6 linked regions of the Homo sapiens genome follow. The protein of the gene in region 5 purifies or fractionates together with the protein of the main gene of each other region. This does not show direct contact. Each region holds a gene or a part of one and is shown on either strand. Other genes may lie near its edges.

What was found.
Region 1: the proteins of JADE2 (region 5) and CCDC88A purify together in Homo sapiens (affinity purification with mass spectrometry; 3 studies listed by BioGRID and IntAct, with this or other methods). This does not show direct contact.
Region 2: the proteins of JADE2 (region 5) and LRPAP1 purify together in Homo sapiens (affinity purification with mass spectrometry; one large-scale study listed by BioGRID and IntAct). This does not show direct contact.
Region 3: the proteins of JADE2 (region 5) and KAT6B purify together in Homo sapiens (affinity purification with mass spectrometry, with the first as the bait; one large-scale study listed by BioGRID). This does not show direct contact.
Region 4: the proteins of JADE2 (region 5) and MYO5C purify together in Homo sapiens (affinity purification with mass spectrometry; 3 studies listed by BioGRID and IntAct, with this or other methods). This does not show direct contact.
Region 6: the proteins of JADE2 (region 5) and KAT6A purify together in Homo sapiens (affinity purification with mass spectrometry, with the first as the bait; one large-scale study listed by BioGRID). This does not show direct contact.

Annotation. Positions count from the first base shown.
Region 1 is NC_000002.12:55,287,342-55,290,856, reverse strand, and holds the end of CCDC88A (girdin), read left to right. Parts: 3' UTR 1-3,015; downstream 3,016-3,515. UniProt on the Homo sapiens protein: Bifunctional modulator of guanine nucleotide-binding proteins (G proteins). Acts as a non-receptor guanine nucleotide exchange factor which binds to and activates guanine nucleotide-binding protein G(i) alpha subunits.
Region 2 is NC_000004.12:3,515,423-3,518,922, reverse strand, and holds part of LRPAP1 (alpha-2-macroglobulin receptor-associated protein precursor), read left to right. Parts: coding exon 1-52; intron 53-730; coding exon 731-889; intron 890-2,724; coding exon 2,725-2,807; intron 2,808-3,500. UniProt on the Homo sapiens protein: Molecular chaperone for LDL receptor-related proteins that may regulate their ligand binding activity along the secretory pathway.
Region 3 is NC_000010.11:74,825,396-74,829,399, reverse strand, and holds the start of KAT6B (histone acetyltransferase KAT6B), read right to left. Parts: upstream 2,801-4,004; 5' UTR 2,615-2,800; intron 1-2,614. UniProt on the Homo sapiens protein: Histone acetyltransferase which may be involved in both positive and negative regulation of transcription. Required for RUNX2-dependent transcriptional activation. May be involved in cerebral cortex development.
Region 4 is NC_000015.10:52,222,805-52,226,304, forward strand, and holds part of MYO5C (unconventional myosin-Vc), read right to left. Parts: intron 2,755-3,500; exon of another isoform or gene 2,729-2,754; coding exon 2,635-2,728; exon of another isoform or gene 2,405-2,634; intron 2,335-2,404; coding exon 2,271-2,334; intron 2,178-2,270; coding exon 2,097-2,177; intron 921-2,096; coding exon 740-920; intron 1-739. UniProt on the Homo sapiens protein: May be involved in transferrin trafficking. Likely to power actin-based membrane trafficking in many physiologically crucial tissues.
Region 5 is NC_000005.10:134,563,670-134,567,169, reverse strand, and holds part of JADE2 (E3 ubiquitin-protein ligase Jade-2), read right to left. Parts: intron 2,677-3,500; coding exon 2,560-2,676; intron 1,055-2,559; coding exon 590-1,054; intron 1-589. UniProt on the Homo sapiens protein: Scaffold subunit of some HBO1 complexes, which have a histone H4 acetyltransferase activity. Acts as an E3 ubiquitin-protein ligase mediating the ubiquitination and subsequent proteasomal degradation of target protein histone demethylase KDM1A.
Region 6 is NC_000008.11:41,971,988-41,975,487, forward strand, and holds part of KAT6A (histone acetyltransferase KAT6A), read right to left. Parts: intron 2,836-3,500; coding exon 2,717-2,835; intron 1-2,716. UniProt on the Homo sapiens protein: Histone acetyltransferase that acetylates lysine residues in histone H3 and histone H4 (in vitro). Component of the MOZ/MORF complex which has a histone H3 acetyltransferase activity. May act as a transcriptional coactivator for RUNX1 and RUNX2.

The sequences.
Region 1 (3,515 bases), on a different chromosome or scaffold from region 5:
GAACAATCTGCTTTTTTCATCATTTGTTTTATGAATTTATCCATGTTTGCTTAATGCTTCTGCTAAGTGTTAGCCAAAATCTAGCCATTTATATTTAGTTGTGTAAACCTAAATTAAATGCTGTAGTATTTTGTGGAATGTACTATATAGCAAGATACAGAGAAAATTGTTTTGGCATGTCAGAGCCTTATTTGGTTAGCAGACTGCATGTGTTGATACTTTTTTTTTCTTAAAGCCAATTATTTTGATGCAAAAGAAATTCAGTTTATAAGATAAATCTGAAAAATCCATAATGAAATAGGAGTTATAAAAAATTTATAGTGATATTAATCTTTCCATATTTCCCATTAAGCAACACTAAGCATTCATAAGTTAACCCATGGTAAAGAGTGTTTTTCTGAAACTTTTTTTTAGTAAGATGGTTTTTCAGCAAATGGCATTCCCAAGATAAAGCTGTTGTGCTTTAACTCATTTCTTTTCTTTGGTATTGGGTTATGTATGCGTGTGCATTTTTTTAACTTGAGAGCTGACTGTTGCTTAAGAAGTTTTCTTATGGCAAAAATAATGTAAATAAGTTACTATGATCTGCATTTTGCCAGAAACTCATTTATAATTAAGGCTATCATTTATTAATGATTTTTTTCTCCTTTATGATATTACATTAAAGTTGATAACTGTTATTGGTACTTTTGAAATATTTGTATGCATTTGTTACCTTTAAACATTTGGAAGAAGCACAAAAAAATAGATTTAGTTAACCCAGGGAAACATCAATTTTTTTAGTAGTTCCAATTTTATATCACAGTTTTATTTTCTTATGAAATCAAAAAATGCATTGATACTCATTAATGCAAATTCATTATTTAACATCAATATCAGAGTAATCTTCAAGGTCTGAAATGAGAAACATACTGACTTTTTAAAATTTTAACAGTGTACTTCTTAGGCTTTCATTACCAGCTCTGAAGAACTTTTTGGAATAATTCCATATTCCATAGTGTGTGGTTTATGAGTTGTGGGTTTCATCACTAACCCAGTAACCATAAGAAAAGTCTCTCTCTCTCTCTCTCTCTCTCTCTCTTTCTCTCTCCCTCTTTCTCTCTCTCTTTCGTAGGCCAGTAGCAATGTTGTGTTCACAGTCTAATTTCCAAAAGACCATCAATAAAAAAGAGAGCATGTTTAAATTGAAATGGAACTTAGAGAACTTGAGCTTACTTACGTACTTCAATGCCACCGGTAACTTAGGTTTTACCACCAAATGCTGTTAACGTTAAATCATTTTGAAAATCTTGGATGAAAGGTGCTATGTAAATGGAAATACAAAGGATTCTTACTAACATACAAAAATAATGCACAACAGAAATATCTAAAACCTTTTCCGTAGACTTTGAAACATCTCTCTCTCTCATAACTCCCTGGATTCAAGTAGCACATTGGTAATAGGTATCAGAGCAGTCTAGAGACAATTGCATGTCAAAAAATGTACATTCATTTTTAGGTGGATAAAAGTAAACATAGAAATTATGTTATGGCTAAATACAGTTAGTGGGTAACTTAGATTTATATTAGCTAGCATCTAATTTGCACAACTAGAACACATCCCAGAACAATTACTGAAAAGCTGAAATTTAATGGGTGGTGATGTAGCCCAATGAGGGCGAATGACATTACAGCTTGACCTCTCCAGAACACTAATATCCTAAAATACAGAACATGCTGGGTTAAGTGCATTAGTGCTTCAAGCAGAAAATGCTGAAAACAACGTGTAAAGTACTGAATCTGAGTAGGCTGACCCTGAGAAGGGACAATTAAAGAGACAACCAAGGGAACACATTGAGACTACAAAAATATGAATAATCTCAATTATATTCATCACACTTTTTTCATACCATTTCAAGAAACGACTAGACAGTAGTAACCACATGAATATTTTACTTTCTCCAGTATACCTTGAGAAGCAAACTTTGTAGGAAGCCACTCTTCTCCCCTAAACAACTTCTGCCAAACAATAATAAAGCCAACTGGAAACGAATCGGAGCCATTTTCATTTTCCTAACCGGGGCCTGACATGCTTTAAATTATCTGGCTGTATTCTAAATCAACACCTAACCCCTCAAGGAAACTGAAGAATCAATATACAGGGTAATAGCTTTGGCTCAGAGCTCCAATAATGTGCTTCAGATCTGTCCATGTGGAAATGCTTTCATCCAAATTTTTAAATTGGTGGTTACCAAAGAGTTCACAAAACAGGTTTGTATGTAGCACCTTTCATGCAAGGCATGCAAAAAGCCTATTTTAAAATCACTGTGCATATTATAGAGTTGTAGCCACCTCACAATGAAGTACTACAGCCTGTGCTGTCTTAATGGTTTATGTCAGGAAATGAAAAAGATACTGTACCAAATCTGGAATTACAATGGGGAGTAATAATGTATACTAAATGACTTTTGTATTTTAAGTTACTTTTTGTGAGTGGTGAATTTTTGTGTTTTTCTTTTCAGCTACACTTAGTCCTGAGATGTATTTTTTCTTTAAGTCTTGAATGAATACAAAAGGAGCCCATTTTATAATATAAACCTTGATGTACATGTTGAGATATTTGGACAATGAAAATGCCTTAAAAGGAATGCATATGGATAAAGTTGCACTTATAACACCCTTCAACAAAATCTAATTTTAAATTGTCTTTTTCTTTTCTATTAAGGGTTTTCTTTTTCAGTGTCTACCATTGTACTTATAACTGTTATTAAATACCAAATCAAATAATATAAAAGCTGTAACATTTCCTTTAAAACTAATGCTAATAAGGGATTTAGAGTTGAATGGCAAAATGTTTATTACTTGGCAATACCTGATGTCAGTCACAGGCATCCAACTCATGACAAGAGATACCACTGTTTGTTTTTTAAAAAACATTTTTCATTTTGTTTCTCCTTCAAAAATTAAGTTGGACTAACATTCACGTATCAAACTAATATAAAAAGAAATAAAACCAAGAGGTGATTTTTGTAACAACTGGTTAGTAATCATTTAAAAATGATATCATTTTAGCCAAGTGTTATTTTATTTCTTTCCATTTTCCCTAGAGAACTATCGTCAGACATAACCCATGACCTTGTTTAGTTGATTCTGTCATATCATTTTGTGATAAGTATTAGGGGTTTGGAGAGAAAGAGCATCTGTCAATTTTATCAGTCCCAAAATAGGTTTAAATGTAATCTAATAGATTGCACAAATGAATCTCCCATTTTCACTTAGACTTTGGGAGACAAAGGAACTGGCCTCATCCTTGGGCTGGTCAGTTTTTCTGGGCCTGTTTTCACTATAAGGTGGGGAGGGCAATTAGACCAGATACCTAAGGTACTTAATTTCTGTGTATTCATTAGTACCTTCATTTCATATGCAAAGCAACCTAAAACGGCTACTTTGTGTTAGAGATAGAATACCGAGTATGTAAAAACTAAGAGGAACCTTAGAATAAAGTCATTACTTTTATTTTGCCTTTTAGTAACACA
Region 2 (3,500 bases), on a different chromosome or scaffold from region 5:
GAGAAAGTTCACGAGTACAACGTCCTGCTGGAGACCCTGAGCAGGACCGAAGGTGCCCCCCGCCCCCACCCCCTCCTGCCCTCTGCCCCACCCCCTCCTGCCCCCCACCCCTCCTGCACCTGAGGCTCGTTGTGCTCAGTGGGCAGCCTCAGCTCCCCTCAGGAACACAGCAGGGGCAGGGAGGCGGCACCAGACGCCCTCCCAGGGTTCCACCGGACTTGTGAGTGGGGAGGTTGCTGTGCAGGCAGGCTCTGGGAGTCGCCTGCCTGCATTGGATGAACCAAGTCTCACCGGCGCCTGCCCCCACTATGGGCACAGCTGCTGCCTTTGTCAGACCTGAGCTTCGCTGATGGGTCCTTCATTCTGGACTCGTGACCCTCCCCAAATGTGTGACTTTCCCACCCCACAAAGCTGGAGTAAAATGGAGGGTGACCCAGCAGAGAGGGGGCAGGGCAGGGGTCCAGAGTCAGCCCCCAGGGGACCTGGTGCCCCAGCTGTCACCGCCAGGCGCCACTTGGTGCGCGTGTCCCGGCGTCTCGCCTGTCTCGCCTGGAAAGGAAGCTGTGCCAACGGTCGTTTCTGCGGCGCTGCAGGACCGCGGAAGGGGGACATTTTCAGCCCAGAAATGAGAGCGAGTTTGAGCTCCCCAGCAGTGGGCGTTCTAGACAGTGGTCTGGGCAGGCAGTGCGAGGACTCCCAGCCTCATGGCGTCCTGCCTTCGGTTTTACAGAAATCCACGAGAACGTCATTAGCCCCTCGGACCTGAGCGACATCAAGGGCAGCGTCCTGCACAGCAGGCACACGGAGCTGAAGGAGAAGCTGCGCAGCATCAACCAGGGCCTGGACCGCCTGCGCAGGGTCAGCCACCAGGGCTACAGCACTGAGGCTGGTGAGTGCCCGCCCGGGACTGTTGGTTCCCGAGGGTGGGGCCGTCTCTGGTTGTGTTTTGGGGACAAGCAGGCAGGTGCTTGTAGCGACGGGAACCTGGGCCTGTGGACGCAGCGGAGACCCTCGGCGCGCTCAGTCTACCCACGGGTGGTCACAGGCCTCGCTCCCAGGAGCTGCTCCGTGAAGGTCACTCGCCGTCCCCAGCCTTGTACCTGGAGACTAGCAGAGGGCAGTGGCGGCAGCGGGCCTGGGAGCAGCCCTTCCCAGCGTCTCCCCAGCCTCAGCAGCACGGCCCCTCCCGTGCTGCTGTTGGCCAAGAACAGAGACCACTCGTCAAACATAGCTCCGTCTCCATCTCATGCCACCCACACCGTCCATCAGTCCCCCTCAGCCCGGCAGGGGCAGGACGCCCGCTGAGGCCACAGAGCTTGTGGCTCCGTCTCAGCAGCTCATCTCCCTCCACTGCAGGCCCTCAGTGGCCAGGCTCTGCACCACTGCTTCTTGCCCCGTACCCGGGCCAGAGCCTTGTGCAGGGTGTACCAGAAGCCTGCTGGCCTCACTCACGCAGCTTCCGATTCTGTACCTCATCCTCCACGTGCACACTGAGCACCAGCTGCACGCCAGGCACTGCTCTAGGCTCGAGGAGACAGCAGCCGCCAGGAGATGGCATCTGTGCCCTCATGGTGATAAGACAGCAGGGCTGGTCTCTGTCCCCGGTGCCAGGCAGAGCCACCGCCTCGTCTCCAGGATGGTCTGCCCAGAGGCAGCCTCCAGCACAGCAGTCAAATGTGTCCACGCGGGCCCAGGTCCCCTTGGGTGGCTGTGCTGCTGTCACCTGAGTGCCCTTGGGCAAGACCCCTCACCACCCACCCCCAAACCCAGGCTCCCTTAGCCTGACCTGGTGCTGGTGACTGTCAGCCGTAGGCTTTTGGCCGTAGTGCTGGGGGCTGGACCACCTTGTAGGCCTGCGATGCAGTTTGCTGAGTTCCTGTGCTGGAGAGACCCGGATGAGCCTGGCTATAGTCCATGCAGGAAAGGGCGACTCAGCCCCACACACTTCTCTTCCCACCTCGGGCTGTCCCCAAGGCAGTTGTGTCCAGCGGCTCCTGCAGTTCTCTTGCGGGTCTGCCTGGGCCTTCCAGCAAGCCCCACCAGCCCAGGGTCCTCGGGGTCCTGAGCAGGAAGGGGTCAGCAGAGGAGGGAGCAGGGGCCACTGTTGCGGGGCTCCATGGGCAGGCGGCTCTGGACTACTCACTCCTGGTTGGAGAGTGGTGACAGCCCCGGAGTCTCTCACTGCGTCCCTTCGTGAGCACCAGGGTCCAGGAGCCGTCTTGGTTTGTTTGGCTCCTCCCAGGAGCCCGAATGTTTGACTTTCACGAGCACAACATCCTGCTGGAGACCCTGAGCAGGACCGAAGGGAAACGGCCTGTGCCTGCGTCTGGACCTGGCTGAACTTGCAGGTGCCCCCACCCGAGGTCCTGGCAGCCTCTGCACACAGGCCACGTCCATCCTCTGCCTCCTGCTTCAGAGGCAGCCAGGGCGGGCTGTGGCGCTTCCCAGGCTCTGATGGAGGCAGGTGTTTCTGGACACAAAGGAGAAGCAGTTGTTTGGCCAAGGGGACAGAGAAGCCACATTTCAGCGAGGTCATGTGAGCTACTGAGCAGATGCCCTCTGTGCCCCATAAGACTTTGAGTGCACGCACCCGTGTTTCACACACATGCAGGTCGCGCCTGCAAACCCTCATAGGCTCCACGCACACTCAGCGTGGTTGCCGCGGGGCTGGCTGTGGTGTGCACCCCGGGTGCTGCTGAGGCCACTCTTGCTCCTCCCCTGCAGAGTTCGAGGAGCCCAGGGTGATTGACCTGTGGGACCTGGCGCAGTCCGCCAACCTCACGGACAAGGAGCTGGAGGCGTTCCGGGTAAGGAAACACGGCCCTCTCCTTCTAGCTCTCTCCTGTGGTGAAGATTCTCTTGCAGTTTCCGGGTAAGGAAATGCAGCCCTCTCCTCCAAGCTCTCTCTCTCAAGATTCTCGCAGTTTCTTCCTTAACCACTCGGTGAACCTGCTTGCGTTTTCCTTCTCATCTGCGTGGGAACTCGTGTTTCAGGGGCGGGGCCAGGCTCTGGAGGGAGGGGCTTTGGTTCTTTTGTCCGTGTTCACGTCTGAGCGTGGCCTTGGTGCGGGTCCTGTGGATGGTCAACAGTTGGTCGGGACCCAGCCACAGCCTGGGGGGAGGGGACCAAGGACACTACCGGGATCGTTTAGGGGTGTCACCACTTCCTGAGATGGAGGCCCAGGGAGGGAAGGAGACCACCTCAGGTGGCAGGGGCTCCTGGGGCGTGTGGAGTGCCAGATCATTCTGAGGGTGGAGAATTCATCAGCTCGGTGAGCACCCAGCAGGGCTGTGAGGAGTGGGGAGTCCATCGGGGGTCCTGGGTGGGCAGCCTTGAGTATGGTATCCGGCCATGAGTTCACCCAGGGTCCCTATAGCTGGTGTCTGTTGGGAGGGAGGTGGGTGTGGTCCTGCCCTCATAGGACTTGGGACTTTCCTGGCCCCAGGAAGGGCCCTTAGCACCTCCCCCAGAAAGGGGTCAGGAGCTTCCCTCTGGGGCT
Region 3 (4,004 bases), on a different chromosome or scaffold from region 5:
GGTACACTGTAGAGAACTAGGAGACTGAAAGCCAGATCACTTAGTTACGTCTTTTACTAATTGATACGTGAAAGTCCATGAGAGCTTATGAAGCACATTAAAATTATTAAACTTCCTCATCTACTTTCTAATACTCATGCTATTTACCTTTCATTCATGCTATGCCTCACATCTGACAGTTTCCACCCAATCTTCAAAAGCAGTGTGTGAAATAAACACATGCTATAATAGCAATGACATAATATCCACTCTACTCAGAAGCCTAAGTGTGGCTAGTAAGCAAAACTTCCTCTGCCGACCGTGTCATGACCATCAGCCATTCCCTAAATTCCTCTTTTAATGTTAAAATCTTCCTCTGTCTCTCTCTTTTCTTTTCTTTTTTTTTTTTTTTAAACCATCACTTCACCACTCCAACCTTTAACTCTCAGTAGAAGTTCTCGGAAAAGAAAAAACATGTGCATTATCCTTTCCTTCTTAAAAACATAAAATACTGTCCAAATTCATTCTGATAAATGTGTAAAGAACTTATGAATGGCCGGGCGCGGTGGCTCACGCCTGTAATCCCAGCACTTTGGGAGGCCGAGGCGGGCAGATCACAAGGTCAAGAGTTCGAGACCATCCTGGCTAACACGGTGAAACCCCGTCTCTACTAAATATACAAAAAATTAGCGGGGCGTGGTGGCAGGCGCCTGTAGTCCCAGCTACTCCGGAGGCTGAGGCAGGACAATGGCGTGAACCCGGGAGGCGGAGCTTGCAGTGAGCCGAGATGGCGCCACTGCACTCCAGCCTGGGCGACAGACTGAGACTCCGTCTCAAAAAAAAAAAAAAAAAAAAAAAGAACTTATGAGTAAGAAAAAAATGGAGTGTTTTATTTCAAGGCTATGCCAAAAAATCTAGGGTATACAAGTAAGACAGGAAGAATGCACTTTAAAAAAAAAAAAACACAAAAAACCTTCTTGGGGCCCCATAGAACTAAGACTGTTCGAACACAACTAATTTCCATTTGCTATTTCCACCTTCTGTCCATATAGGAGGGGCCCTCATATGCTCTACCCTGAATTTCCTTGGTACCTCCAACCCCAAACATACTTGGTTCGTTGGTCTTCATTTCCTATTTCCCACATCTGTAATTCTTTATCACTACCCCTTCACAACTTCTGTCTAACACTCTCTTTAACACGTCCCAACACCTTCTACCAATTACAGGGCTTAAACTCCTTCATGGGGCATAGGACACCATTTGTAATCTAACCCCTCCTCTGCCTTTGCCTGGTCATCTCCTACCACTCCCTGCACTCTGCCCACAGCAAAGTACTAGCAAATTCAAAGCTATGCAAAATGTCCTATCCCAAGGTATGGTGCATGTCTCTTCCTGGGATACCCTGCTGCCGGACACTCCCTTGAAGACTCCAGATCAAGTTTAACATAATGAATCCAGCGTATCACGGGTCGCCATAGCTCACGTCTGTAATCCCATCAGTCAGGCAGAGGTGGGCAGATCACTTGAGGCCAGGAGTTCGAGACCAGCCTGGGCAACATAGTGAGACCCTTTTCTCATTTTTATAAAAAATAATAAATACAGCCTATCAAACAACTTGTCTCCCAAACTAACACCTTTCTCTGCCCCATCCTCACCCCTGGCACAGTCCACCAAATCACATTCACCGAAAATTACTGTACAGCTCCACCCACTTTCTTCACACCTGCCGCCTTGTCCCACCCCTACCAATCCCTTGTCCCCAGGAGATTTTCTGCCACAGATTTTGCAAGTTCTAAGCAGCCTCTCTCCCCTTCCTTCATATTTAAGTTTGCTCTGCTGTCTTAGCATCATCTTTCAGAAACTCTCCCAAGCACAACCATCCCATCCTTCCACGTTTTTAAAAAATACTTCATACCCCAAAGCTAGCAAACCTCCTTCTTATTCCAACATGCGATCCACCCAGATACCTCTTTCCCATCACTGCAATCGTACCTGCTCCTCACATGCGCCTCAATGCCTCCCCAAACCCCTCAACGCCTCCCCAAACCCAACACTCTGCACCGCTTCAACTCTACTCCACATCCACCACACCCAAACCCACCTACTCTGCGCCCAGACAACTGCAATCTCGCCTTCGGTATCATCTCACCTGCCCTCACACACCCCTCGGTCCGCCTTCCACTTCTCTCAAATTGCATCCCTCCCTAACTCTCCCTCTGCACCTGCTTCTACACCTTCAGCTTCTCCTCCCACCCAACCCTCACTAGTCTTCCTCACACCCTCGCCGGCCCCCCACCGCTCCTACCAGTTCACTCCCACTCAGAAATTCCCTCTCAGCCCCCGCCTTCCGACTCCCCGAACCCCGCCCCCACCCGATCCCGCCCCGCCCCCCTCCGCCCTCGAGCCCCGCCCCCTTGCCCTAGAGCCCTGCCGAGGGGCGGGGCCTGTCCCTCCTCCCCTTTCCCCCGCCCCCTACCGTCACGCTCAGGGGCAGCCTGACCCCGAGCGGCCCCGCGGTGACCCTCGCGCAGAGGCCTGTGGGAGGGGCGTCGCAAGCCCCTGAATCCCCCCCCGTCTGTTCCCCCCTCCCGCCCAGTCTCCTCCCCCTGGGAACGCGCGGGGTGGGTGACAGACCTGGCTGCGCGCCACCGCCACCGCGCCTGCCGGGGGCGCTGCCGCTGCCTGAGAAACTGCGGCTGCCGCCTGGAGGAGGTGCCGTCGCCTCCGCCACCGCTGCCGCCGCCGCCAGGGGTAGGAGCTAAGCCGCCGCCATTTTGTGTCCCCCTGTTGTTGTCGTTGACATGAATCCGACATGACACTGATTACAGCCCAATGGAGTCTCATTAAACCCGAGTCGCGGTCCCGCCCCGCCGCTGCTCCATTGGAGGAGACCAAAGACACTTAAGGCCACCCGTTGGCCTACGGGTCTGTCTGTCACCCACTCACTAACCACTCTGCAGCCCATTGGGGCAGGTTCCTGCCGGTCATCTCGCTTCCACATAAACACACCCCTCGACCCATCATCCCCCCCTCCGGCACCACCCCGGGGGAGGGTCCACTGCCAATACCAATCAACAGACCGCTGGGTCCGCCTCTTCCGGGCACCTATTGGTCCAGCCCTTTTTCTCTCTCCTAGATACCGCGCCACCTCTACTTCCACCTACCCGCCCCCTCCACCTCTAGGAAAGGATTGGGTCTACTCGCAGCAGAGGAGCGTAGCCTTATTGGCTGCAGACGACGCCAATCAGGAGGCCTTTTCCCTCTCCCCTCCCCCACTCAACCCCAAACCCCCTAGCCCGCAGCTAAAGTTTGTGTGAGAGCTGATCGCTGGCGGCGGCCGCAGGATTTAGGGGTGGGCGCGGGCGGGCGCGCGCGGGCGGGCACGCGAAGTTAAAATTCGAGGTTCTCAGTCGCCAGCTCCTTCGGTGGAGTGTGCGGACGGGCGCGCCGCCCGGAGCGTTCCATCCCGCCCCCTCCTCCACCCTCTCTCCCGTCCCGTCCCGTCCCGGGCGACTACTCGCCCGCCCCCTGGCTCGCATCCTTCCCCCCCCAACACACCCCTACCCTGCCAGCCCCAGGCCGGGTGCAGGCAGAACGATGTCGCTGCAGCCTCCTCGCCATCCCATGCCTCGGGGGAGCAAGCCCCTACCCACCGGGCGTGCACCCCCCGGCTCCACACTCGCCCGTGTCTGCAAGCACGTGCACCGCTCGCCGCTGCCTCCGGCCACCCGGGTCCCCGGCTAACCTCGCCTGCAGCCCGGCCAATCGCTCGCTGCCCTTTGTTGCTGCAGCCTGGGTCTCCCCGCTGCCTTCCTCAGCCTCCGCCTCGTCCTTTGCCAGCCGCCCGGGTCCGCAGCGCCGCGCTCCCCCCGCCCGGGACCCACCGCCGCCGCCTCCTTCTCCTCCTCCGCCTCCTCCTCCTCGGCTCCGGGCTGCAGCGCACAGAGCCCGAGGCAGCGCCGCCCAGCCCCGCTCCCCCCGCGCCGCCCGCCAGCCCGCCCGGCCTGGCCGGGGGCGCAGCCCG
Region 4 (3,500 bases), on a different chromosome or scaffold from region 5:
AAGAAAGAATGAGACAAATGCAGTGGCTAGGAATGCACGTCATGGAAGAGGAAGCCCTTGAAAAGGTGAGATTTGAAGGCCGGGCACGGTGGCTTATGCCACTTTGGGAGGCTGAGGCAGGCGGATCACGAGGTCAGGAGTTCGAGACTAGCCTTGCCCACATAGTGAAACCCTGTCTCTACTAAAAATGCAAAATTAGCTGACCGTGATGGTGGGCGCCTGTAATCCCAGCTACTCGGGAGGCTGAGGCAGGAGAATTGCTTGAACCTGGGAGGCGGAGGTTGCAGTGAGCTGAGATCATGCCATTGCACTCCAGCCTGGGCAACAGAGTGAGACTTCATCTCAAAAAAAAAAAAAAAAAAGGTGAGATTTCAGGCATGAGCAGGACTGGCCTTCTGACACACTCCTGTCTCAAGAGCTACCCTTCAATTTTGTGGTCACTTTCCAAGGGGTTAGGGCTTGATTTAAATATACAGGCTTTAAAACATACACACTTACGCGCACACACAGACAATCACAGCGCCTGCAGCCATCCTGTGGTGAACACACACACTCTTGTATCAGAGTGCTCTCTGGTCTGCAGTCATTTTATAGTTTAATCACCAGACCAAGTTATTTCACTTCTGGAAAAAGTAATTTATATCCACTCTTTTACTGCCAAGAAACTGAATTTGACGCCACTGACAAAGAACAACTCTAGTATGATGGCCACGACTGGGGCCCCTGGCTGAGACCATACCATGTTCTCTGATGTTAGCCTGGTAACTTCATGACGGATGCTTTCATTGATGTCATTTTCTTCTCTGAATAACTTCTGCAGGTGGTTGATTTCTTGACTGAGATGCACCACTTTGAAGTTCAAAGCTTCAATCTCCTTTTCATAGCAATCCTTCTGAGACTGGAAATGGCTCTCCAAAACACTATTAAAGGAGGGGTCAAGAAATAAACCACATGGCCTTTGTTCTGTTTTATGGACTGCTGGGAGGCAGTTATGAAGACCCACAACAAGAGCCGTGCACGAAGTACATCAAGTTTACTTATGCACTCACGGTTACAGGCTACAGAATCAGGAATGCCTAATTATAAAATCTTCTAGCTAGTTAGGAAGCATTATGTGGGGGTTAATATGTAGTTAACAATGAAGAAAATTTTAGAAGTTATTATATTTTTACACTCTTAATAGTTTAAAAAATACTGGCCAGACGCAGTGGCTCACACCTGTAATCCCAGGATTTTGGGAGGCCGAGGTGGGCGGATCACTTGAGGTCAGGAGTTTGAGACCAGCCTAGACAACATGGTGAAATCCCGTCTCTACTAAAAATACAAAAATTAGCCAGGTGTGGTAGCGCATGCCTGTAGTTCCAGCTACTTGGGAGGCTGAGGCACGCAAATCGCTTGAAACCTGGAGGTGGAGGTTGCGGTGAGCCAAGATCTTGCCACTGCACTCCAGCCTGGGTAACAGAGCGAGACTCCATCTCAGAAACAAAACAAAACAAAACATGTTCTGTATGATACTACAGTTGTGGATACGAGTCATTATACATTTGTCAAAACCTACAGAATGTACACCAAGAGTGAACTCTAATGTAAACTATAGACTTGAGGTGACAGTGGCGTGTCAGTGTTGGTTCACCAGTCATAGTAAACACATCACTGTGGTTTGGGAAGTTGACAGTGGGGGAGGTTGTGTGTGTGTGGTGGCAGGGATATATGGGAACTCTCTGTATTTCTGCTCAACTTTGATGTGAACCTAAAACTGCTGTGAAAAATAAAGTTTATTAATTTAAATAAATGCAGCACATGCCTTAAATTTAAATGTATCTACATATTTCTGGCAACATTAACTAACTTATTTGATAATCAGTTTTCACTGTATGGGTTATGGGGTTTTTTACTAGGCATTTTATCCCACAAAGAGATTGCTCTTCATGAATAAGCTACTTACTTACTTCTCAGAGAAATATTTCTAGTGGTTATTCAGTCATTCTACTATAAGGAATTTGTGTATCAATCTATGTAAGGTAAACTTTGGACTTTCCAATAGTCTATTTATTATCTCTGAAAAATAAAGAAGATCCCTGAGGAGAATTTCTAACCGTGTTGCTTTCTTTAGTCCTTCATAAGCAAACCAAAGTTCTCCATCCTCATTTAAATGTTCCAGATCTTCCACAGAGAGCCTGCAAAATAAGGAAGATAAGAAAATCTATCATCTCTGTCACGTTTTACATGTTTACATGTCTTAAAATGTTTGATAATGCAAAAATGATTACCTGCTTCTTACATCTTCAATGTCATAGCTTTCGAGAAGTTGTTTGGTGATCTCTGACATCTTTTCTGAAAGGGAAAGGCAGAGTTGTATATATTACATTTGTGGATGATTTATCTTTTCCCATTCCCTTTCCAGGGCCCAGTTTTCTAGCTTCACAGTCTCCAGCTAAATAACTCACCAGCTATCCAATCAACCAACTAACCAATCTTCCAGGTATTCAACCAACTAGCTATTCAACCTATCAACTAAGCAATCTACCATATGTCCAACCAAATTCATACCAAAGGACACGTTTCCTTAGCAGCGACACAGCTATGATAAATTCAGTCTGCACCCATGGACTAAGAGACTCATATTTTTATTACCTCTCATTTCCCGTTTTTGTGACTGCACATGTTTCTCCACATCTATCTTCTGTGCCTGAAGTAGTTCTATCTCTTTTTCGAACTCAGAGATTGTCTGAATCACAGCAATGACGGAATCAGGTAAAGAAAAAACAACGATTATGCTTTATATAAGACAAAGGGAACACAATTACAGCGTTGCGTGTCTATGCAAGACATCCTCACTGCAGTTTCTTTCTTAGCTAAAATCTTGTTAAACCATCACTGCCTACACAGCTTGGCCTTGAAGCATGCTTAACTACTCAAAATGCCAGATCTAATGGGTTGTATCAGTAGAATTAACTTCCCTGGGCCAGGCATGGTGGCTCACACCTGTAATCCCAGCACTTTGGGAGGCTGAGGCAGGTGGATCACCTGAGTTCAGGAGTTTGAGACCAGCCTGACCAACATGGTAAAATCCCATCTCTACTAAAAATACAAAAATTAGCCAGGCATGGTGGCAGACGCCTGTAATCCTAGCTACTTGGGAGGCTGAGGCAGGAGAATCGCTTGAACCCGGGAGGCAGAGGTTTTAGTGAGCTGAGACTGCACCATTGCACTCCAGCCTGGGGAACAAGAGCAAAACTCCACCTCGAAAAAAAAAAAAATTAACTTCCCTGTTACATAAAGAAAAAAAAATACCTACTATAAGCTTGGGGTGGGGTGGGACAGGGGGAAGACTGAGAAAGGTAAAATCACGGGCTAAAATTCTCTTTTAATGGATAATAAAATATTGAGTGCAAGGACATGGGCAAAGTTGCCACCTTCATAACTGTGGGTTTTGGCTTCAGCTCAGCTTAGATGTGGAGCAGTGGCAGAGACTGGTGAGTCCAGGAGGTCTGGGAGTT
Region 5 (3,500 bases):
GTTCCTTGAGTCCACCCTGTCTCCTTCGTGCCTCTGTTCTGTTTGCCCAGCACCCCACGGAGCCGCGTTTACCCATCTACCCTGCCCTGGCCCGGCACGTGCCTGTTTGGCTGCTCCTGGCTCTTGATGCCCCTGGCTTTCAGCATGGGTTACGGGGACAGCTTGGGAAGCTCCAGTTCCTCCTCTGCCTCAGATTCTCAATGCAAGCTCATGTGTTAGGACCAGGCGGGGCCCACAGAGGCAAGCAAGTGCCAGAAGCCTAGGTCCTCGCCCTAGCTCTGGTGCTCTCAGCCTCATGACCTTGGCAGGGCCCCCACCATTCACCAGGCCTGTGACAGGGCTAGGACAAGAGGGACTCGGAGACTCAAGAACTGGACTCTTCTCTGTTCTGTAAAGTGTCAGTCACCCCCATACTCTTTGGGACCTGAAAGCCCTCAGCCCCTTGGCAGGCTCCTGCAGCAGGGCCGGTCCACCAGAGCTCACAGTTTGAGTCCTGGTGAGTCCTAGCTGCTCCAGGGCAGTGAGTGTGGCATGGAAAGGACTCCTGGACCCACCAGGCAGGGGGTGGGCAGGCGGCATGGGGACTCACCCTCTCTAGGTCCTGCCGCAGATGGGTGAAGAGCTTCAGGCGGCGGTAGAGGACGTCCTGCTCCTGCTGGGCCAGGTTGTCCACCTCGTCGGTCTTGGGGGTCAGCAGCGGCTGGTTGGCATTGGCTTTCCTCTTCAGCTTCCAGTACTGGTAGATGAAGTCGACCAGTGCCTCAGCCAGGTCCAGCCGCTCAGCCACCTCAGCCGGCTCCACCAGCTCGTAGAAGTCCTCCTCTAGCTGCTGCAGCCGCTGCTTGCGCAGGGTCACCTTTTCCAGGTCCTCGCCAGCCTGGCTGGGTTCCGTGGGCTCAGATGTGGGCTCATTACGTGGGCCCCCGTCACTGTGCTCCTGGCAGAATGACTTGAACTTGACCTCATCGTTGTCTGCTAATATAGTCCGCATTTCCAGGCCGTGGTCAAAGGCGCATGTGACATGGAACGCTGTGACGCAGGAAGGCATGGAACACTGAGGGGAAAGGAGGGGCAGGATCAGACATGGAGGGAGCCTGGTGGGAGGGGAGAAGACAGAGGGGCTTCCCCCAGGGCTCTACTGAGAATGCGCAATGCTGGAGAGAACCTAAACAGAATGGCATGGGCTCCCAACCTCCTGTGCAGGATGGGAGTTACGGCAGGGGAGGAGGAGGAGCTCTGGGGTGCCTGGAAAGGTAACCCATTCAACACCACATGCTTTGGGGAAGTCAATCAGAAGACGGTTGAGAAACACCTCTGGGGACAAGCTGCATTTTTTTTTTTTTGAGACAGAGTCTCACTCTGTTGCTAGGCTGGAGTGCAGTGGTTCCATCTCACCGCAACCTCCGCTTCCCAGGTTCAAGCGATTCTCCTGCCTCAGCCTCCCAAGTAGCTAGGGCTACAGGCATGCACCACCTAGTTTTTGTATTTTTAGAGATGAGGTTTCGCCATGTTGGCCAGGCTGGTCTCGAACTCCTGACCTCAGGTGATCCACCTGCCTCGGCCTCCCAAAGTGCTGGGATTACAGGCGTGAGCCACCGTGCCTGGCCTCAAGCTGCATTTTTGTGTGGGCAAAATGACTTTGGCATCACAGAGCATCAAGAGAAAGGCTGATGATGGGTCACTGGCTCATCTAAGATGGGGACTGTGGTCCCCTTTTTGTCCTCTGGGAAGAGGGGCTGGACTTAGTCCCCTTCCCTCTCCTTTCATCCAGACAGCTTGAGGCCTGACCCTCTCTCTTAGCCTTGGATGATGATAACTGTGTCAGCAATCACGCACCCAACTATTATGACTGCTGATGCTGCACTCACAAATCCTTTTGAAGGTCCGTGGATGGGTGAAGGCACAACTAACGTTTACAATGACAACTCTGTTCCTAAAAGATGAGGGGGACAAAGGATGACTCCCCCCTGCACTCCCAAACTATAGACCTGAGGCATCAACATCCCTTGGGAGCTTGTTAGAAATGCAAGTTCTCAGCTTCACTCCAGACCTACTGAGTCAGAGCCTCTCAGGAGTAGGCCCAGCAGTCTATGTTTACCAAGCCCTCCAGGTAATTCTGACGCATGCTAGACTTTGGGAATAGGCTTTGCTAAAGACAGACTGGTACAGCCCTTCCAGTGTCAGGACAGTCTATTAGCTTAGCTAGATGAGAAGTTTGATTCCTAACCCCTAACGCGTCAAATTCAATGTCAGAAGTGAGGCTAATGTATTCATCAAGCCCCAAGACACTTGCTTTCAGGGAAAGCCAGAGTTCTCAGCACTCCAATGGGGTGGTGAGCCTTGGTTCCCCGGGTCTGTTCCCACTCCCTAGAAGACCAGGGGATGGAGAAATGCTCCCCAACAGGTGCGATTCTGACTCTGGCCCCAGTCCCACACCCCTCTGGGGCCCATCAGTCTGCAGCCCCATGGAGGGGAGAAGGTGGTGGCAGCTGCTGTCTGAGGCCCCAAGCATGCCTCTCAGCCAGCTCCTGGCAGCAGGAGGTGAAGTAGGCCACATACCTGGATGCAGGTGCCTGTGCATTCCTTGCAGAGGCTGCAGGACAGAGCCCAGCGGCTGGCTGGGATATGCGAGATCTTGGTGATGGGCTCCATCTTCTCTGGGCAGCCGATGCTGACCTGGGCAGGACACAGGGGGCTGCATCATTCCTCTCATCCCCAGCCTGCCTCCAGGGATCTCCAAAATGGGGGTTTGTCTGCTGAAACTAGGTGGTGGGCAGACAGGGCAGTGGCTGAGCCCCTGAATCCCAAGTCCCTCCTGACACCAAACAAGCATGGCTCAAAGGCCGGAATTCCTCCTCACTCTCCCAAGCTCACCACTGGATGAGTGTGTTAGTGTGTGCTCATCTGAGACTAATCTTAAATTGTCTGTGAATGTGTGAGTGTGCCGTCAGTGTGTGTAGTTGACTGTGTGTATGTGCTTAAGACTGCGTGGGCCTTGACAGACAGGTGCTTTGGTGTGCGCATAGGTACATGCAAGATCCTCCTTCTTTCTGCACTCAGGCCTTTGTTAATAACATCTTCAGAGTTCTTGTTACGATTTGTATTTGTATTACTTATTTTTCTAGGCACCAAGAAAAGCCTCATTGTGGGATCTCCTCTTGAAGGTCTTTAGGGCTCTCCTGGGGATATGCCTTTGCTGAGCCCTTCCTATGGGGACAGCCCTACAACTATGCCCAAGTCTACTGGGCAGAGACCACCCCACAGCCCAGAGGCAGGGCACATTTGTCTCCCCATTGCTAATGCCTGAGGATGGAAAAAGCAATTCTCTCCAAAGGTCCTGAGCCAAAGGGTCTTCATGATGGAGTCCCTGTTGGTTCTGTCTCTGCCATGCCCAGCCCAGGGTACACTCAGAGGTGGTCCCAGTCTTCAACATGCTGATCTGCAAGCAAGTGCCTACTGCTGACACAAACAACTGTTATCACAGAAGCCCGCATTGTGGG
Region 6 (3,500 bases), on a different chromosome or scaffold from region 5:
CTATGGCTACAACAGTAAGAGCCTAGAACATCTTGCTGTGGCCAGAAGTAAATAAAAATGATGATGATGTGTTAAAAGGACAGAGGAGCTTCTAGAAAGGAGTTCCCCTCTGCCTAAATTTGGAACAATTTAAGCATCAAAATAAATACTAATAGCAATGGATTATAACCATAAAATAATCTATGAGTTTAAACAAAATGAATAAACAAATAGGAAGAAGAAAAAGCTTCTCCTTACAATAGAATGCCAATTAATAAATGGCAAAGAAATGATAGAATTAGAAAATAATGTTTGGCCACCAACAAAGTAAATGATTCAGGCAAAAATCATCTCTGGATGCTAAATGTGGTAGATAAAAGTTTGATGAAAAACAGGTTATCTGCATTTCTGTCTCAAAGTATGTCCCCCCAAGATACTTAATTATAGGTAGAAAGCAATGTTAGAGAAGAAACATGGATACCACCTAAACCAGGTGGTCACTGTTAGCAGCACTTGTGATGAGAACTTGGATATTACATGCCTTCTGATGTGACACACTGAGGAGGACACAGCACACCTGTGGAATTTTCTAATCATGAAAAATAAAACAAGCTCAAAGTGATGACATTCTATAAATGACCTGTGCACTTCAAAACTGTCAAGGTCATGAAAGATAAAGACTGAGGAACTGTTCCCAATTGGAAGGAGACTAGAGAGACGTGACAACTAAATTAGATAATAGTACTTAATTTGTGTTAAATTCCTGATTTGATGATTGGACCATGGTCATGTATGAGAACATTTCTGTTTTTAGGAAATACACACAAAAAATTAGGAGTAAAGGGATATTAACACATTATGTCTGCAACTTACTCGGGAGGAGAAAAAAAAATTCTTTCAGTCAGGAAGAACATAACTACTGCCTCCTTTCAGTTCCCACTGAAGTCCATGTAGATTTCTACTAGAGTACCTATAATAACTCACTAGCATGAAAGGAAACAAGCTTTGAGGGCAACCTGCCCAAAGGAGAAGTTAGTAAATGACAGATCAAGACTTGAACCCAGATCCACCTGAATCAAAGCCAATATTTTGTTAAATCATAATACAGCAGAATGCTGAGTAAATGCGTGCTGAGTATTTGTACTGCTGTTTTATTTTTCCAAAAGTACTCACATAATGACCGACATCAACAGTCTATTCACCACCACTGGGTCTCTTAATATGAAGAGTTTTCCCTAGAACCCTCGGCATCAGCCTTAGAATTTTTTTTTTTTTTTGAGATGGAGTCTCACTCTGTTGCCCAGGCTGGAGTGGTGTGGCACGATCTCGGCTCACTGCAACCTCCACCTCCCGGATTCAAGTGATTCTTCTGCCTCAGCCTCCCGAGTAGCTGGGACCACAGGCGTGTGCCACCGGCTAATTTTTGTATTTTTAGTAGAGACGGGGTTTCACCATGCTGGCCAGGCTGGTCTCGAATTCCTGACCTCAAGTGATCCACCCGCCTCGGCCTCCCAATGTGCTGGGATTACAGGGGTGAGCCACCGTGCCCAGCCTAGAAATTCTTCTTTTCAAGATAAAAGAGAACTTGGCTTACATGGTACATTTGTTGGTGGCAAAGAAGGAAAAGACAAAAAATAAATGAACATAATCTGGAAGAGCCTTTATGATCTAGCCCCTGCACTTTTCCAACCTCACCTCCTGCCATTCTCCACACCCTATATTCTTTATCCTGAGCCATTTTAATTCCCACAATTAAGCATGTTTTCCCCTATCTTCAAGTCTATTCCACCTTCACTTCTGTTCCTTCTGATTATATAAGAACCAACTCCCTACATATCCCTTTAAGGGATATGTACAACTCCTACATATCCTTTAAGGCCCCTCAATGAATCCTCCTCTGACCTCCCCAGGCAGAAGTAGAAGCTGGCTTCCCTATTCTCCCAAAACATCAAGTATTCTATAATTGAACTTTTCATATTAATGACATTACTTATTCACAAATCTCTCCTATAGTTCAGGGAAAGAATTCAGTCATTCACTGGCATCTCCAGCATGTGGCACATAGACTCTGTCTATATATTTACGATCTTGCCATGTGTCACAAAGAATTGCAATTTTTTTTTTTTTGGAAGACAGGGTCTCACTCTGTCACCCAGGCTGGAGTACAGTGGCATGATCTCAGGTCACTGCAACCTCCATTTCCCCAGCTCAAGCAATTCTCCTGCCTCAGCCTCCTAAATAGCTGTGACTACAGGTGTGCACCAACATACCTGGCTAATTTTTCTATTTTTTTTTTGAGATGGGGTTTTGCCATTTTGCCCCAGCTGGTCTCAAACTCCCAGACTCAAGCAATCCACCCACCTTGGCAAAGTGCTAGGATTACAGGCATGAAATACTTCTTGAATTAATAAATATAGGTGTTTTATCACTCATGAGAAGCTTGTTTTTTGTTTGTTTTTGGTCAAATCCCAAATTCTTCTTCATACAGTAAGACAAAAAATAAACCAAGCTTATTTAATATTGATAGTCAAAGCCATGTGCTTATCTGCAAAACCAAAGCAGTTATCATGGGTTTGAAAGGAATATTATAAACAGCAGAACTACATATACACACAAACCACAACTATTCTGAGATTAGGCAAACTGCTGTTACTGCTTAACCCACAATGTAATTAATCTGCTGTTTCTCAGCCATGAACAAGTTGCTTGATTGTCTAACCTGAATATCCAACTTTACCTGCAGTGCTTGTTCTTGGATATCACGAAATAATTCCATATCTTTCTCAGTCATGATTTCCTGGCTCCCAAAAAGTCGCTCCTCATTTTCTTGTTTGCCATCCCAGCCATCCTGATTGTCTACATATAAAAAAAGAGCTCACATGTTAACTGTCCCCAGATTAATACATGAACTAGAAAAAATTTCAGGTCTTTATTTCAATTTGAAGAACTTAATATATAACGAAGAATATAGCATTAAACTGACTCTTAGAAGAATGCTACTCAATAAATAATATTTATGTATTAAATCTGCCTTATAGTGGAAATCCTGAATTGTCTTAAAGCTTCCTAAAAATATTATATAACTAAATTTAAACTTCATTAAAGATTACATTTTAATACACAGAAAGGCAGACAGAAAAATGATATAAGGAATATAAATTTCATTTTGAAATAGTATAAATTTGACACTTTTAGTATAGGTTTAATGCATCAACGTTCAAAAAAACCTCTTGAGTAGCTACCTTAACTGATGTCAGCAGTACTAACTCCCATCACATTCTGGGTGCCCTTTTAAAGTTAAAGCACAAACTTTAAAACACTGTCCTTTTAAAGCACAAACTCTATTTACCCAGATGATAATCATCTGGGTAAATATGAAAACGTATGATAATTATCTACTAAATGATGGAACTTCCTCAAGTTGGCAAAAAACTAGTGAAGAGAGTATTTGGGACTTATGAAGATCATTATCCTTTGCATTTGAAGATGACACTGCTGTTGGGCTCATTTGCTCTCTTTAT